Homo sapiens: one gene and its partners. The protein of the gene in region 2 purifies or fractionates together with the protein of the main gene of each other region. This does not show direct contact. Each region holds a gene or a part of one and is shown on either strand. Other genes may lie near its edges.

The links. Proteins that work in one complex are often made in the same cells at the same time.
Region 1: the proteins of YKT6 (region 2) and FKBP3 fractionate together in Homo sapiens (co-fractionation; one large-scale study listed by BioGRID). This does not show direct contact.
Region 3: the proteins of YKT6 (region 2) and CNN3 fractionate together in Homo sapiens (co-fractionation; one large-scale study listed by BioGRID). This does not show direct contact.
Region 4: the proteins of YKT6 (region 2) and GOT1 fractionate together in Homo sapiens (co-fractionation; one large-scale study listed by BioGRID). This does not show direct contact.

The regions. Positions count from the first base shown.
Region 1 is NC_000014.9:45,127,982-45,131,481, forward strand, and holds part of FKBP3 (peptidyl-prolyl cis-trans isomerase FKBP3), read right to left. Parts: intron 2,820-3,500; coding exon 2,718-2,819; intron 1,921-2,717; coding exon 1,813-1,920; intron 1-1,812. UniProt on the Homo sapiens protein: FK506- and rapamycin-binding proteins (FKBPs) constitute a family of receptors for the two immunosuppressants which inhibit T-cell proliferation by arresting two distinct cytoplasmic signal transmission pathways. PPIases accelerate the folding of proteins.
Region 2 is NC_000007.14:44,207,478-44,210,977, reverse strand, and holds part of YKT6 (synaptobrevin homolog YKT6), read right to left. Parts: coding exon 3,486-3,500; intron 2,846-3,485; coding exon 2,780-2,845; intron 1-2,779. UniProt on the Homo sapiens protein: Vesicular soluble NSF attachment protein receptor (v-SNARE) mediating vesicle docking and fusion to a specific acceptor cellular compartment. Functions in endoplasmic reticulum to Golgi transport; as part of a SNARE complex composed of GOSR1, GOSR2 and STX5.
Region 3 is NC_000001.11:94,896,457-94,899,783, forward strand, and holds the end of CNN3 (calponin-3), read right to left. Parts: intron 3,062-3,327; coding exon 2,915-3,061; intron 1,628-2,914; coding exon 1,286-1,627; 3' UTR 501-1,285; downstream 1-500. UniProt on the Homo sapiens protein: Thin filament-associated protein that is implicated in the regulation and modulation of smooth muscle contraction. It is capable of binding to actin, calmodulin and tropomyosin. The interaction of calponin with actin inhibits the actomyosin Mg-ATPase activity.
Region 4 is NC_000010.11:99,427,825-99,431,794, forward strand, and holds the start of GOT1 (aspartate aminotransferase, cytoplasmic), read right to left. Parts: upstream 2,801-3,970; 5' UTR 2,742-2,800; coding exon 2,624-2,741; intron 1-2,623. UniProt on the Homo sapiens protein: Biosynthesis of L-glutamate from L-aspartate or L-cysteine. Important regulator of levels of glutamate, the major excitatory neurotransmitter of the vertebrate central nervous system. Acts as a scavenger of glutamate in brain neuroprotection.

The DNA.
Region 1 (3,500 bases), on a different chromosome or scaffold from region 2:
AAGAAGGGAATGGCAATGGCTAGACATTCACATTTTGGCACTACAGAACACAGGAGCATATAATGAGAAGGGAGTCCAGGGGCAGTGGCTCACGCCTGTAATCCCAACACTTTGGAAGGCCTAGGTGGGCGGATAACTTGAGGTCAGGAGTTCAAGACCAGCCCAGCCAACATGGAGAAACTGCGTCTCTATTAAAAATACAAAAATCAGCTGGGCATGGTGGCGCCTGCCTGGAGTCCCAGCTACTGGGGAGGCTGAGGCAGGAGAATCACTTGAACCCAGGAGGGGGAGGTTGCTGTGAACCAAGATGGCACCACTGCACTCCAGCCTGGGTGAGACTTTGTCTCAAAGACAAAAACAAAAACAAAAAAAGAGAAAGGAGTAAGAAGGGACTGAGAATTTGTGAGAAAATGTCAAATACTTTATGTGAGCAATGAGCAATGTGATGGAGAACTGGGCAAAGGATAGTATAAATGTTGTTGAGTAGCAATGAAACTAGAAAACATGCTTGGCTAATATTAAGCATGAATTTATACCAGGCTCAATAAAAGGTTTTATGATTATATGTTTATAATGCCTGCTCTCCAGTCCCAAAGCATGAAGACAGAGAGTAGACAACGAGGGTTAGCAAGGAAATGGACAAGAGGCTTTTGAATGTAGGACGCTAGGAAAACAGTCACAGTACATAAATGGGCTCAAGCTGGCCAGTTAAACGAAGAGGTTTTAAATAAAATGATAGAGTTTAGGACCCTCATAAGCTTGCTCTAGATTGTCTCTAGCTCTTATGAATTTACCTTTTATTTTCTTAACTCCTTAATGAAATATTATCTGTCTCCTAAAACCATCCTCATTCTAATTTCCTGGAGGGTGAACTATGTTGCCAGTTGCTTCTGAAACCCTTCAATAATAATTGCTCCATTTACCTTAGTAGCTACTCAATAGATATAACATTTATTAAATATTAATTGTGATAAACTTTAAAACTGCTTTGTGTGCACATATACCTATAAACATTAATTTGTGCTTTTTAGCCAATAGGAAAAGATCATGCAAAATTAACTAGCTTTAATCAAATAAACATCTATAATTGTATAACTGAACTTACACTTTCCACAAATACCCAAAAGCTACACTGTCATCAATAGCCTCACCTCTTTACAAGAACTAAAAATAGATTATTATCACTGATACTAAGACTGCTGGCAATGAGTGAGCTTAGATAGTAAGGTATTATCAGAAATGACAAGATTATAATCAATTCAGCTCTGCTAAGTCAGTTCTTAGTAGCTGATCTTAGCTCTACTAAGGCTGTCAATTTGCAGGAATGAATTAATCTGGTTCTTCAAACCTTTGTACCAAAGTATAAAACCTGAGTTGGGAAAACTGAGACAGATGAACCCACATCCTGCAGCCAAGCCTGGATTATTTCTATTGCCAGGGACACCATGTACATTAGAAAAAGCTAAAAATAATCAAAAGAAAATGTATTTCACTTAGTCCAACTTGGCTATAGAATCAAGGCCTTAAAATAGCTTTGAAAGCTCAGAAGGTCTGGACAGATGTGGAGGCGATATTAAATACAATATCAGAAGTGTTTCACAGAATAGGCTAATAACTGTAAAGCACTAGTTCTTAGGATTATTTCTGTCCCAGTACACCTAAGGGAAATGGCCCACTACATTAAGTGTTTGGCTCATTGAAAGTGGTCGTATTCAACCACCCTTCACTATGAGAAGTTAGTGCAAATAATAAAGAAATAAATACAATTTCTAGACTCCACATGATAAAATAAAAAAATAATTATATACAGACCTCATCCAGGGTCTCTTCAGACTTGGTTTCTTTGGGTTTATCTTCATTAAGCTTCACATTTTTTACTTGCTCAGACACTTTACTTATACTTTCAGTACCCTTAAAACGCTGTAAGGAAAATGTTGTAACATCATACCCAGGACAGGCTAAAACCAAGAAGCAACATCAAGATTTTCAGCCTCTCAATTAAATGAACATCTGCATAATAAATATAGGTTGTATAACACAATTGTGAATAAATGGTCTAAGGAAACGAAGAGCAAAGAAAGAATTTTGCTCATAATTTATTTTTAAACAATAAATGATTACCCTCAAACCAGCTTACAATATAAATTCTGAAATGAGAACCATGACCTTAGAAAGGCCAACTCATACCCAGAGATATAAGCACTATTCAAATAACTCCTAAATAAAGATTTCTTTCCTGTGGAAGATATTCATTTCATAGTAAACAAATGTGGGAGAATGTCTTAAAATGTATTTTTGTAAAGCTCAGCCTAAATCTAAACCAGACTTTAAATTCATTAGTGAAATGGAAACTTATTTTCAATATAACATTTAACATATATAATAAAACAACAACAAAATACATTTAATATACACCATATGCTAAAGTAATACGGTAATACCACTGACCTAATGAATTTATAACTTCAGTGGACTTAAGAATTTGTTGTCTCAATTTAAGCTACAAAATCCAGACCCTTTGAAAATACTGAAACATTCTGCCATACTGCAGATTAGCCTTGCTAGATTTGACAGCTAGTCCACTTATGATAACAGTTCAGAAAAATTACAGGTGGAAAAGCTCCAACACATTCAACAAATCAATGCATTTTAAACATCTTTTTTGGAAATAAAATTTCAAAAGTGATGTTCTGCTAACAGAATCTAACAATACTCACCTTAGTTTCAAAAAGATGGTTATAGGCTGTAACCAAGTGGTCCTTGTTAGCTGTCTTGGCCACATTTTTAATGTTTCCTAATAATTTATGTTCTGCAAGAAACTATAAGGAAAAAAGCTGGGTAATCAAGATAACTTCTCCCGAGTAAGAAGTGTCTAAAATTAGAAAACGATCCTTTTATGTTAGCAGTTGTGTTTTCAGTAGTACTAGTACTGAAGAAGAAATAAAGCCTATAGTTTATACTCTTTGTTACAAAAAAAGTAAGAGATTTTTTAAAAATTCGGTATTTACAAGAATTAGTGACAAGACTGCAACTGTAGTGTTATGTACTGAACACAGTGTTTCATCCTAAACTTTTTCCTGTCAACACTCACAAAAAATAACATTTATACAGCAAGCACACTGTGGTGACTTGAGTCAGCTGCTCACTGCAGGAGGATACTTGGGTGCAGCCCTTGAGAGCCTCCAGCCAGGTTGGACATAGCTATCCTGAGGCATTTGTAACCCATTCTTAGCCGACTAGGAAGAGTCACTGTTACACAAGCATGTAACATACATATGTTGAGATTGCTATGCTTAACATTATATATATAATTGCTAAGTATATGGGCTGTGGAGTCATATTATCTAGGTTAAAATCCTAGCTGTGTGGGCCGGGCGCGGTGGCTCATGCCTGTAATCTCAGCATTTTGGGAGGCTGAGGCAGGCGGATCACCTGAGGTCAGGAGTTTGAGACCAGCCTGGCCAACGTGACAAAACCCCATCTCTACTAAAAATACAAAA
Region 2 (3,500 bases):
CTGACATGAGCCCCTCATATTTCAGTCATGGGGGAAAGTGCCTTACCTGGGTTCCTCTCCAACACACACAAACTTCACCTCTAGGTGTCGAGACTCGGTCCAAGAATAGTTACTGTCCAAGTGGATGGAACAGAACCTGGTGACATTCCCGTGAAATCTAGAAGATCTAACTGGGATGTAGCAGACTTCCCAAAAAGCTGTCCCCAGCACAGGCTTAGATAACCAGCACTCCAGGAAAACTCATATATATATATACACACACATTTATATATACATTTGTGTGTGTGTGTGTGTGTGCACGCACATGTGCGTGTGCATGGAGCTTTGGAAAAAAGAGTAGCTGGGCACTATATGATTGTACTGGGTTGGAGAGTGACCCACACCGCACCCCCCAACCCCAACCGCATCCCAGAAATTAACATCCCCAGAATCTCTGAATGTGACCATATTTAGAAATAGGGTCTTGGCAGATGTAACTAGTTAGGAAGAGGTAATACTGGATTAGGGTGGCATCTAATTCCATGACTGATGTCCTGGTAAGAAACGGAAACACACACACAGAAGGTCACGTGACGGCAGAGGCAGAGCCTGAAGTGATGCACCTCTAATCCAAGGAATGCCAAGGATGGCCAGCAGCCACCAGAGGCTGGAGAGAGGCCTGGGACAGACACTCAGAGCCCCAAAAGACACCAGCCAGGCCCACAGAGCTATCTGTTAAAAGCAAATATTTGAGGGTTTCTGTTGACAGCAGCCACAGGAAACAAAAGGCGGTGGGAAATGGCTATTGAGCACTTGATGTGAGGCAAGTCCAAACTGAGCAGCGCTCTGAGTACAGACACACCAGATTTCAGATGCAAACTCACACATGCTTCATTAGTAAGTTTTATACTGAAAAAAAAACAAGTTTTATACCGATTACATGTTGGAAAAATTGTATTTGGATATACTGCGTTAAGTAAAATATATAATTAAATTAAATTCTACCTATTTTCCTTTTATCATTTTAAAATATGGCTCCTAGAAAATTCTAAGTTACACACATGCCCCAAATATATACCAGACAGCACTATGACAGAACATGTCCTGCCTTCTAAATGGGCTATGTCCTAAATGTCATCACTACAAACTCTGACTTAGGAAATGAAAACACTGACCCCATGGGAAGGGGTCTAGAGATGGAGACCTCACAAGAGCCAGCAGCTCTGCTGCCAGGGCCCTCAGGAAGCAGCAGCTCGCTTCTCTCCTCAGATGGCCACTGCTGCAGCAGCTAGATGCACACATGAAGCGCCATAGAACAAGGAGCCAGCAAGAATGTCCTTCATCCCTACACACAGCTGAGCGACTCAAATTTTTAACACAGAAAGTTAACTGATTCAGATATGCACACCAATCATCTAGATTTTACAACTGCAGCTAGATGAGGCTGGGTGAATAGGACTCATCCACTCCCCACCGTGGGGAGAGGAGAAACAGCGGGTGTCCCAGGTGTCATGGTACTCAGACTAGGACTTGAGCAACAGAAAGAGATGGCTTGAGGAGAAAACGGAGAAATGCCACCTAGGTGGTAAGAAAGCTCACAAGGTTTCAAAAGACACAGATACCATGAGACTTTCACATCTATCGTTCATTCCAAAGCCACGTTATTTGGAGTGCAGTCAGCACACCTGTGTTTGAAGCCCCTGGGATGCTTTTTATAAAATGCAGGTTCCCAGGCTCCATCGCAGGCCAACAACTCCAACCCCAGGAGACGCTGATGTACACACTAAAGCTATGCCTGTGTAAATGGTAAAGCTTTGTATGTGGGTTTCAATCCACTCCAGGTATCTATCAACTGCTGAGCATGGTATAAACTAGGCACTGTATCATGAGCAGGATGGAAAGATGTCCCAGTGCTCATACGCTGGTCAGGGAGACATGTAAACAAGCAGTGACAAAACTGTGACATCTGGTCAGAAAGGCCCAACCTTCAGGCGCCTGTGTGTGAGCTGGGCAAGAAAGGGTATAAGAGAGAACAGGGCCCAGTCAGGAGACTGTGAGTTAGTTTGCACTTTATCCTGGGGCGGATCTGAGAGCTGCTGAAGGGTTCTAAGTTGTGCAGATCAATGACTACTCTCTGGTGGACAGACTGGAGGTGAGCAGGAGGCAAGGGGACCACTTAGAGGCAAAGGCTGTAAGAGAAAAACCTGAGAAAAACAGATAGCTGCTTACATTCCACTTGTATGCAAAAATTTAAAAAAAAAGAGTTGAAGCAACAGTTACAAATCAGGAGATTTCAGCTCAAAATGCAGGGTTCTGGCTCTTTTCAAAGGGGCCTATGTGACAACCCTGGGCCCATATTCCAGAAGCTGCCCTGTGGTCAGTGCACGGTGCTTCAATCTGTTCACCTTCAATGCAAACGCTGCAAGGGGAGGCACCTGTGGGGTGTGGAGGCACCCGAAACCCTAACAAAGGCACCAGGGTGGGAATCCAGGTCTTCAGAAGCCAAACCCTAGGAACCCAGTAAATGGTCAGACAGGCAGTAGCCATGAGGAAGGGAGACTTGAGGGTTCCACTGGTTCCCAGCTTGGTCCCCTAGAAACAATGGGTGCCATTAACCAAGAGAAGGGTATAGGAAAGACAGTCTGATGCCCGGGGTGGGGGAAGGGGTGGGCAATCCCACTTGCTGGAGAGTGCCGTGGTTACTATTATATTAAAACGAGGATGGATCTGTGCATGCCTGGCCAGTGGAAATCGCACCCCCGCCTCAGTTCTTGGGCTTGCTCTCCATCTTCCTGCTTACCAGAATGATTTTGGTCTCATCTAGTTCGGCCTGCACTTTAGTCATGGGATCAGCTTCTCGTGGGTTCTAGGAAAGAGTGAAAAATAATAAAGTCAGGACTGGAGTGGCTACCTGCAAACAAAACCTAAAACTGAGGAAGCTGGACAAACTTTCACAGGTTAAAAACCACAGCCTGGGCCGGGCACAGTGGCTCACGCCTGTAATCCCAGCATTTTGGGAGGATGAGGCGGGTGGATCACCAGAGATCAAGAGTTCGAGACCAGCCTGACCAACATGGTGAAACCGTCTCTACTAAAAATACAAAAATTAGCCAGGCGTGGTGGCACATGCCTGTAATCCCAGCTACTCGGGAGGCTGAGGCAGGAGAATCGCTTGAACCCAGGAGGTGCAGGTTGAGTGAGCCGAGATTGCGCCACTGCACTCCAGCCTGGGAAACAGAGTGAGACTCCAACTCAAAAAACAAAAAACAAAAAAAAAAACCCACAGCCTGTTTAACATGTAACAGAAACCCAAAGCCTGCCTAGAGCTTGGGTTCCCCGGTCTGAACGTAGATTCTCTGTTTTCCAAACAGTAAGGCTTGAGAGAGGACACCAGCATCAGAAGCTGTCAGAAGTAATTAGACCAGAACTATCAGGGCAGTTGGCTTTTTCAGTTTCACATGGATTCTGGGCCACATGGTGTCTGCTGAAGCTTCCTTTAACCCTACCTGGTATCTACTGAG
Region 3 (3,327 bases), on a different chromosome or scaffold from region 2:
GGAAAGTGTGAGTTACTAATTTTCTTTTAGTGACTGCATTTTTGTCACTATGACACCTAGCTATTGTTTGTCCTTCCCTCTGTCAGGACTGAAGGTTTATGTTTCACTATAAACCCTGGCTTATTACCAAGCAGCACATCCTATGGCTGACCTAGCATGTTTCTTATTCATGTTTACTTACCCTAAGATAGGAAAATTCCCCACCCCTCCTGTCAATATTCCTAAAGATTTTAAGATTATTCCAAGTTGAATTTAAGATGAATCTGGGCCAGCCAAGTCAGTGAAATAAGCAAGGGTCAGAAAATGATTAGAATTCTGTCATTTACTATGTGTAATGGTTTCCTAAGCCTCAATCTCCTTAAGCATAGAGTGCAGTGTTGTGTGAAGTAAATAAAATGTTAATGTACCTTGTAACAGTACCTAGGAAAAAGGTACTTAAAAAAAAATCTGACCCTACCTATCTAGAAGCTAGCCAGAAAATAATCAGCCTGTGGTTCATATGAAAGTTCAAAAAAAATATTTATTTATAAAAAATACAATGGGATAAGTTTATGCTGAGAAATGCAGCAATAAATACAGTTGAAGAAAACAGAGCAACTCTACATTGATACATTGGCACAAACAGGAAGAGCAAATGCATCACCCAGGCCTAAATGTCCACAGGCCACTTTTGTACATGCTCTTTTAGAAACACCACTCTGAAAAGATCTTGTTCGCTAGGTAAGAGAATGAGTACACATATAATCACAAATGCACACTGATCATGACTTTATTTAAAAATTAGCAAACAATACTGTAGAAACATTGATATGTAAATTTCTAAAATGCTGCATCTTAAATTTAGTTGGCAAAGACCACATTTAGCAATAAGCATGAGTTTAGTCTTCCATGTAGAAACCAGATACACTAAACTGTAAAAAAAAAAAAAAAAAAAAAAAGTTTCCTATTGTTTGAAAATACCAGTTTAATATAAGATTGTAAAAATGCATAGATTTTTGCATAAAAGAACTGGCTGTACAAGAGTACTCCCCTTTCACAGTATTCCTTTTTACTTCATATGCGAGTTATTGATTATGCTGTAGGATTTAACTATTACAGCACTAAAAGGCAACTATTGAGGGAAGAGGCAGAAAAAGGAAAAAGGAATGTACGTAAGGCAATTTTTCTTAAAAGTACAATAAGCTTAATAGTGTTTTAGGAAGACAAGATAAAAATTACTCAAGGCTAGCTTGGTTCTCACTGAATAAAAACAAAGGACTAAATACTGAGCTCCTTCTGTGTGGATCTAATAATCAATGCCTTGGTCGCTATATTGGTAATCTCTGGGGTAGTCATCCTGGTACTCGCCATGATACTCATCAGGGTATTCTGCCTGATAATCACTATCACTGATTTCCGAACCATTTGTTCCTGTTCCTTGGCTTCCGTTGTGAATGACAGGTTCTGTAGGAGCAGCACAGTATTTGGGATCATATACTTGCCGCCCAAGCCCATACACACTCATTCCTTTCTGGGAAGCAACTTTGTTGGTACCCATCTGTAGGGAAATTGTCGAGTTGTCCACCGGCTGTAATGTTAGCTTCTGATCATAGATGTCTCTTCTGGTACCTGGTGCTAACATCCCTGCCTGGTATTAGAACATAGTATAAAAGTTAAAACAGCAGCTAGAATCTATTCTTGTGAATAATTTATAAATTATAGAATTCACATTGAATATGAACAGTAATACATGAACTTTCATTTGGTTCAGGGGTAAAGCTAGCTTAACCAAAATATCCTGATACCGAATCACTTCCATGAAGCAATATTCATTGGCTTTTGAGCTAGGTGAGACCTTTCTTCAAAATCCTTGCTCTGCTATAAAATTACTATGTGGCCTCAAACACGTAAATTTAGCTTTAGGTTTCTCAAACTGCAAAATGGAGACATTACTACCTACTCTGGATTTAAGAGAGAATGAGACATAAAGAATGTGAAATCATAATGCTTCCACACCAGAAAGTTCCATGTGAATGCCCATGGGGACCACATACATTATCTGGGTTACCAATTTCAAAAATTTATAATATATTCAACAGAAACTATGTTGAGCAGATCTTAAGGACTTGAGTCTTTTCAAAAGGCTGAGATACAGAAGAACCAGCCACTTCACAGCCACTCCCCTCTTTTTCAGAGTACAGTAACTCATACTTCATCTCTCTACTTACATCAAGCACACACTTCCAGGTTCAGAGTGGGTAGAAAAGTAAACGTGAGTGGCAGCTATGAGAGACATAATGCCGCACCCGGTAGGATGTGTTCCATAAGGGCAAAGTTTGATAAATCTCCCTTGGACTCGGTAAGAAAATGTTTTTCAAACCCTATCCCAGCTGTTGTTGGATGTGAGACCTGTCTGTTCTCAAATGGTTGTTGAACTTCCTTCTGAGGTGCTGGTGATCTATTTTTAACAAGGAAATATTTCTATCTTGGATGTGGTATACTGGTATTTTCACCATGTTGCATTTCCATCTCCTTATATTGACACATCTAATAGGAATGCTAGTTAAATCCTTCTTAGTGGAACACCAGGTAATTTTACCTATTAATTAAGGGCTCCTTAAAAAAAAAAGTCAGCATTTAAATGAGCAATATTTTACTTGGATTTTGGAGCAAGAACACTGTAATAAACATATCTTTTTTTCTGCTGGCTAGGTAGAAAGGCCAGCTGTTCTAACTGCCAACAAAAACCACGAGACACATCATGCTTTTGCTGCTATCGAAAAGGTCTTTTGATTATTTTGCTTTCCCAGCAAAGTCCACATTCCTGAAGGAATATACTCTAAATAAACTATACAAAAAATACCTACTTTAAACTTCTGGTTAATAAAAATAAGGTAAGTGTACTCTTGTACACGTATAAAAAGGTATTGCTTACCTGGCTGGCTCCTTTATTAGTGCCCATCTGCAGACTAATTGTGGTCTGGTCAAAAGGTTTGTCAGTTTGCATTTTGGGATCATAAAGATGCCTCCTAGTCCCGTAAGCTGTCATACCTGCCTGGCTGGCACATTTGTTGGTTCCCATCTTTTAAGTTAAAAATAAAATTGCACAAATTATCAGATGTCAACAATATACACAACACAAACAAAACTTTCCATGCTACCAAAAAGACAGAAGGGGCACAACCGACAAGTTACTGAGCTGAGGCTCCAGTCAACTCTTCTATGTGTCTACAAACAAATTTCAAGTGCTAACTTTAAAAAGAAAATTTTAAAGTCACTATAGATAAAAACTCATACATAGAAGAATTAAACACACTTTAACAGGTGGACTGACACACCAAAAGTCAT
Region 4 (3,970 bases), on a different chromosome or scaffold from region 2:
TGGTCAAATGACCTGGGGCAAATTGCTTCACCTCTCCAGTCTTCGGCTTCCTTGCCTCTAAACAGTAATAGTAATAAACCACCCTCCAGAGTTGTGAGCATTCAGTGAGATTACATGCATAAATAATTTGCTCATGGTAAGGAGTTGGAGTTCCTGGAAAACATGACAAAGGCACCTTCACAGCTGAGGTGGCCGTCTGAGTCAATGACTCCAATTCTGAGTCCATTGCTTCTGGCCTGTGCTGTCGGGGTGCTTTTTCTCTGCAGGAGCAGTTTATTTCTGAACCAAGGTCATAAATTAGTTCATTTTGCAGTTCTTGAACTGAAAATTTTTATTCAATATCTTTTATGAGAATCACTCAAAGAAATGCCAAAACAACAATAACAGTAATACCTAACACTTATATAAATCCTACTTATGTGCCAAATACAGCTATAAACACTTTAAATGTACTTAATCCTCACAGAAACCCTGTAAGATAGTTCAAAGGTAAATTGAATTAATAAAATAAATCTGACGTGGTTTTTTGTTTTTTTTTTTCTTTCTTTCTTGAGACGGAGTCTCACTCTGTTACCCAGGCTGGAGTACAATGGCGTGATCTTGGCTCACTGCAACCGCCACCTCCCAGGTTCAAGCGATTCTCCTGCTTCAGCCTCCCAAGTAGCTGTGACTACCAGTGTGCACCACCACGTCTGGCTAATTTTTGTATTTTTAGTAAAGATGGGGTTTCACCATGTTAGCCAGGCTGGTCTCGAACTCCTGACCTCAGGTGATCCACCTGCCTTGGCCTCCCAAAGTGCTGGGATTACAGGCGTGAGCCACCGTGGCAGGCAAAATCTGACGTTTTAAAAAGATGTATTTAGATTGACAGTAATACTAGTTCTTTGTATACATCCCGCTGCAAAGAAACGCTTGGAGGTTTTGGACTGGTTTTAAATTAAGAGACCAAATGGTGTCCATTCAAATTCAATTTGAGGCAATCTTTCAACATTTCTCCCACTCAGTTGCCTGCTAAAAACATCATTTTCCCTCAATGGGCCAAACTATGTAGTACTGACTTATCTTAAAAGCTTTATGATGAAAAATTTCAAACCTATACAAAAGCTGAGAGAATAATATAACGTATGCCCATGTACCCATCATCCAGCTTCAACAAATTACCCGCTTCAACAAACCATCACTTTTCAATGGATTTTTCCTTACCCCTCCCCATACTCCTTAGTGAAGACTTTTTTTTTTTTTTGAGAAAGAGTCTCGCTCTGTCGCCCAGCCTGGAGTGCAATGGCACGATCTCGGCTCACTGCAACCTCCGTCTCCCGGGTTTAAGCAATTCTTCTGCCTCAGCCTCCCGAGTACCTGGGACTATAGGCGGCCAACACCACGCCCGGATACTTTTTTGTATTTTTAGTAGAGATGGGGTTTCACCGTGTTAGCCACGATGGTCTCATCTCCTGACCTCGTGATCCGCCCGTCTCAGCCTCCCAAAGTGCTGGGATTACAGGCCTGAGCCACCGCGCCCGGCCGACTTTTTTTTTTTTTTTTTAACAAATGCTATGCACAGACAAAACGTTATCTATGAGAAACCTGATTCTGAGCGTCCTTCATGTCACACTCTGCTACAAAATGATTCCACCTTCTCTTTCCACAATTTCTAGTCCTTTTATTCTAAGTCTATTACCTAGCATAAGACTTTATCCTACCCATTTTCATCTCTCTGGCTGGTCTTTGCACGTGGCAAAATCCAAATGGAGAAAATAAGTGTCTGTGGGGCTTCAAACATCCAAATGATAGTGAGAAGAATAACAAATTCATCAGAGAGGGTTAGGGGTAAAAAATTTGAGAGGCACTCCAATATAAATCTTCTTGGCAGATGGGGAAACTGAGGCCCATGCTCTGAGCTGTCCAAGGTACAGAAGAGAATCACTTGAATCAAGAAATGAAGATAGGATGTGTGGAAAGTAAGCTTCTACCATCCATACTTCTCTCCACTCCTTTCCACCATCTCTACCCATTCCTACCACATCTGTGACGGCCAGAACCATCTCCCCAGACCCCCCGGGGGCAGCATTAACCTGTCTCAAAGCATTGTGTAACACCAGCAGATTTTTAAATCCTTAAGGGCAAAATCAAGCCTCAGTCTCCCCCTACAAAGCTTAATAAGGTGGCTGATTGATACTCGGTGGTCACTCAAATATTTACCGACTCAGAACAGAGCTTTCTAGCGTTAAAAGTTCTCCTTTACCCATTTCCTAGCAACCAGAACCCTAAGCCTATCAGGCTTCCTATTTTTCTACCTCTCTCTACAAGCTCCGGCAGCCTCATTTCTTAGGAGGATGCAGTATAAAGAAGGCAGAATGGGGAATCGGAAAGACTGAGTTTGTGTCTTGGCTGCTACACCTGGTTTGTGCGGCCTCGGACACATCGCCCCTTTCCAGGGACTCCACACCTGCATCTGTAAAATGGGCAGGTTTTAGGAAGCCTTCGTGGATCCAGCCTCCTCTCCGGCGCCGCCCTCTTCAGGCAGCGCCACACTGGGCCTCGGCTTCTCCCACAGTCTCCACGACCTGGGTTGGGTCCGCTCCACTCCCCGAGCTGCTCACACTCCAGAGCACTACATCCTTACCTCCCACTCCCAGGTTGACCTTGCGGGGGTCCGGATCCTCCCTGAAGTCGGCAGTGAGCTTGAAGACCAGGACAGGCTGGGCCTGCGGAACCTCGGCAAAGACTGACGGAGGTGCCATATCGAGAGACTAGGAATCAAGAGATTTCACCCCACGCCCGGAGCTGGCAGGTCAGGTCTGGCCGTTGCGACTGGAGGAGACACTCACCTTCACCTAGCCGGCGGGGGCGGGCCCGCGGCCTCCAATGGTCGAGCCGCGTCCAAAGCTTGGCAACGCGATTAACCAATCGCCAGCTTCTGACGACGAAGGCACAGGGGAGAAGGAACGCTATTAGCCAATCCAAGAAAACAATTTATCGGCTGCCGAGAATGATGCAACCAATGCAATTTCCTCCGGCTGAGGCGTGGGCGAAGACTACGGTTGATTGGTAGAGCGTGCTCCTATCGCAGAGGCTGTTATTCCTTGGGTCTCCCGGCTGAGGGGAGGAGCCGAGCGAGCGGCGGGTGTCCCTGAGAGGCCACCTTTCGACCTTCGAGGGCCAGGAGGATACGGGGAGGTGGCCGGAGGGAGTTCCCGAACACAGGTCTTCCTGTTCCCGCCGAGCAGGTGTTGGCGGTGCCAGGCCCGGCCTGGCGGGCCCGGGCTGGCAGCCAAATACCCAGCGTCTGTGCTCGGGACGGGAGTGTTCGTCCAGGACGTGCAGCTCCGGAGCCTGCGCGGGCGACCTTGACCACCTTTGTCGGCTGTTTCCCCCTGAGGGAAGTATACCTGTCCTGCCAGCCTTGGTCTCTGGCAGGGAAGGTCCTTCCAACAGAGAGGGGTGCGCACGAATTCCTTTTTGCCGCTCTTCTATTAATAGTTTGAGATTTTCCTCCCCGATTCCTTGCAGAGAGGGCCTGGTCCTCAAGGACCTCGGGATCTGGGCGCGACGTCCCTTCCCAGCTTCCTCCCGCGCGCACCGGACCAGATCTTGCTGTCGTCAGCTGGCTGGTACCCAAAGTTCCTCTTCGTCAGGCTGTTCCTTCCCCGTTAGAGTCCTTCCTCCCCAGGAGCCCTCTCCATCTGCTGACCTTCAAGACCCAGAGCGAATGCCACTTCATCCATGAAGCCTTCCCTTAACCCTTATCTGGCCAAAATGTCTCTTTCCTGTGCTTCTGTACTTTCACAATTTTAGAAAATGCCTTTGTGGTTAAAAACCTATCTCCGGGACCGGACTATCTAGGTTTAGATTCTGGCTGCCGCTTACGAATTTGGGCAGGTTTAGTCAAGTTATTTTAACCTCTCTGTGGAAGTTCCTGCTCTGTGGAAATAATAGTATTTTCCTCAGAGTTGGTGTGGGGAGTTTGTGA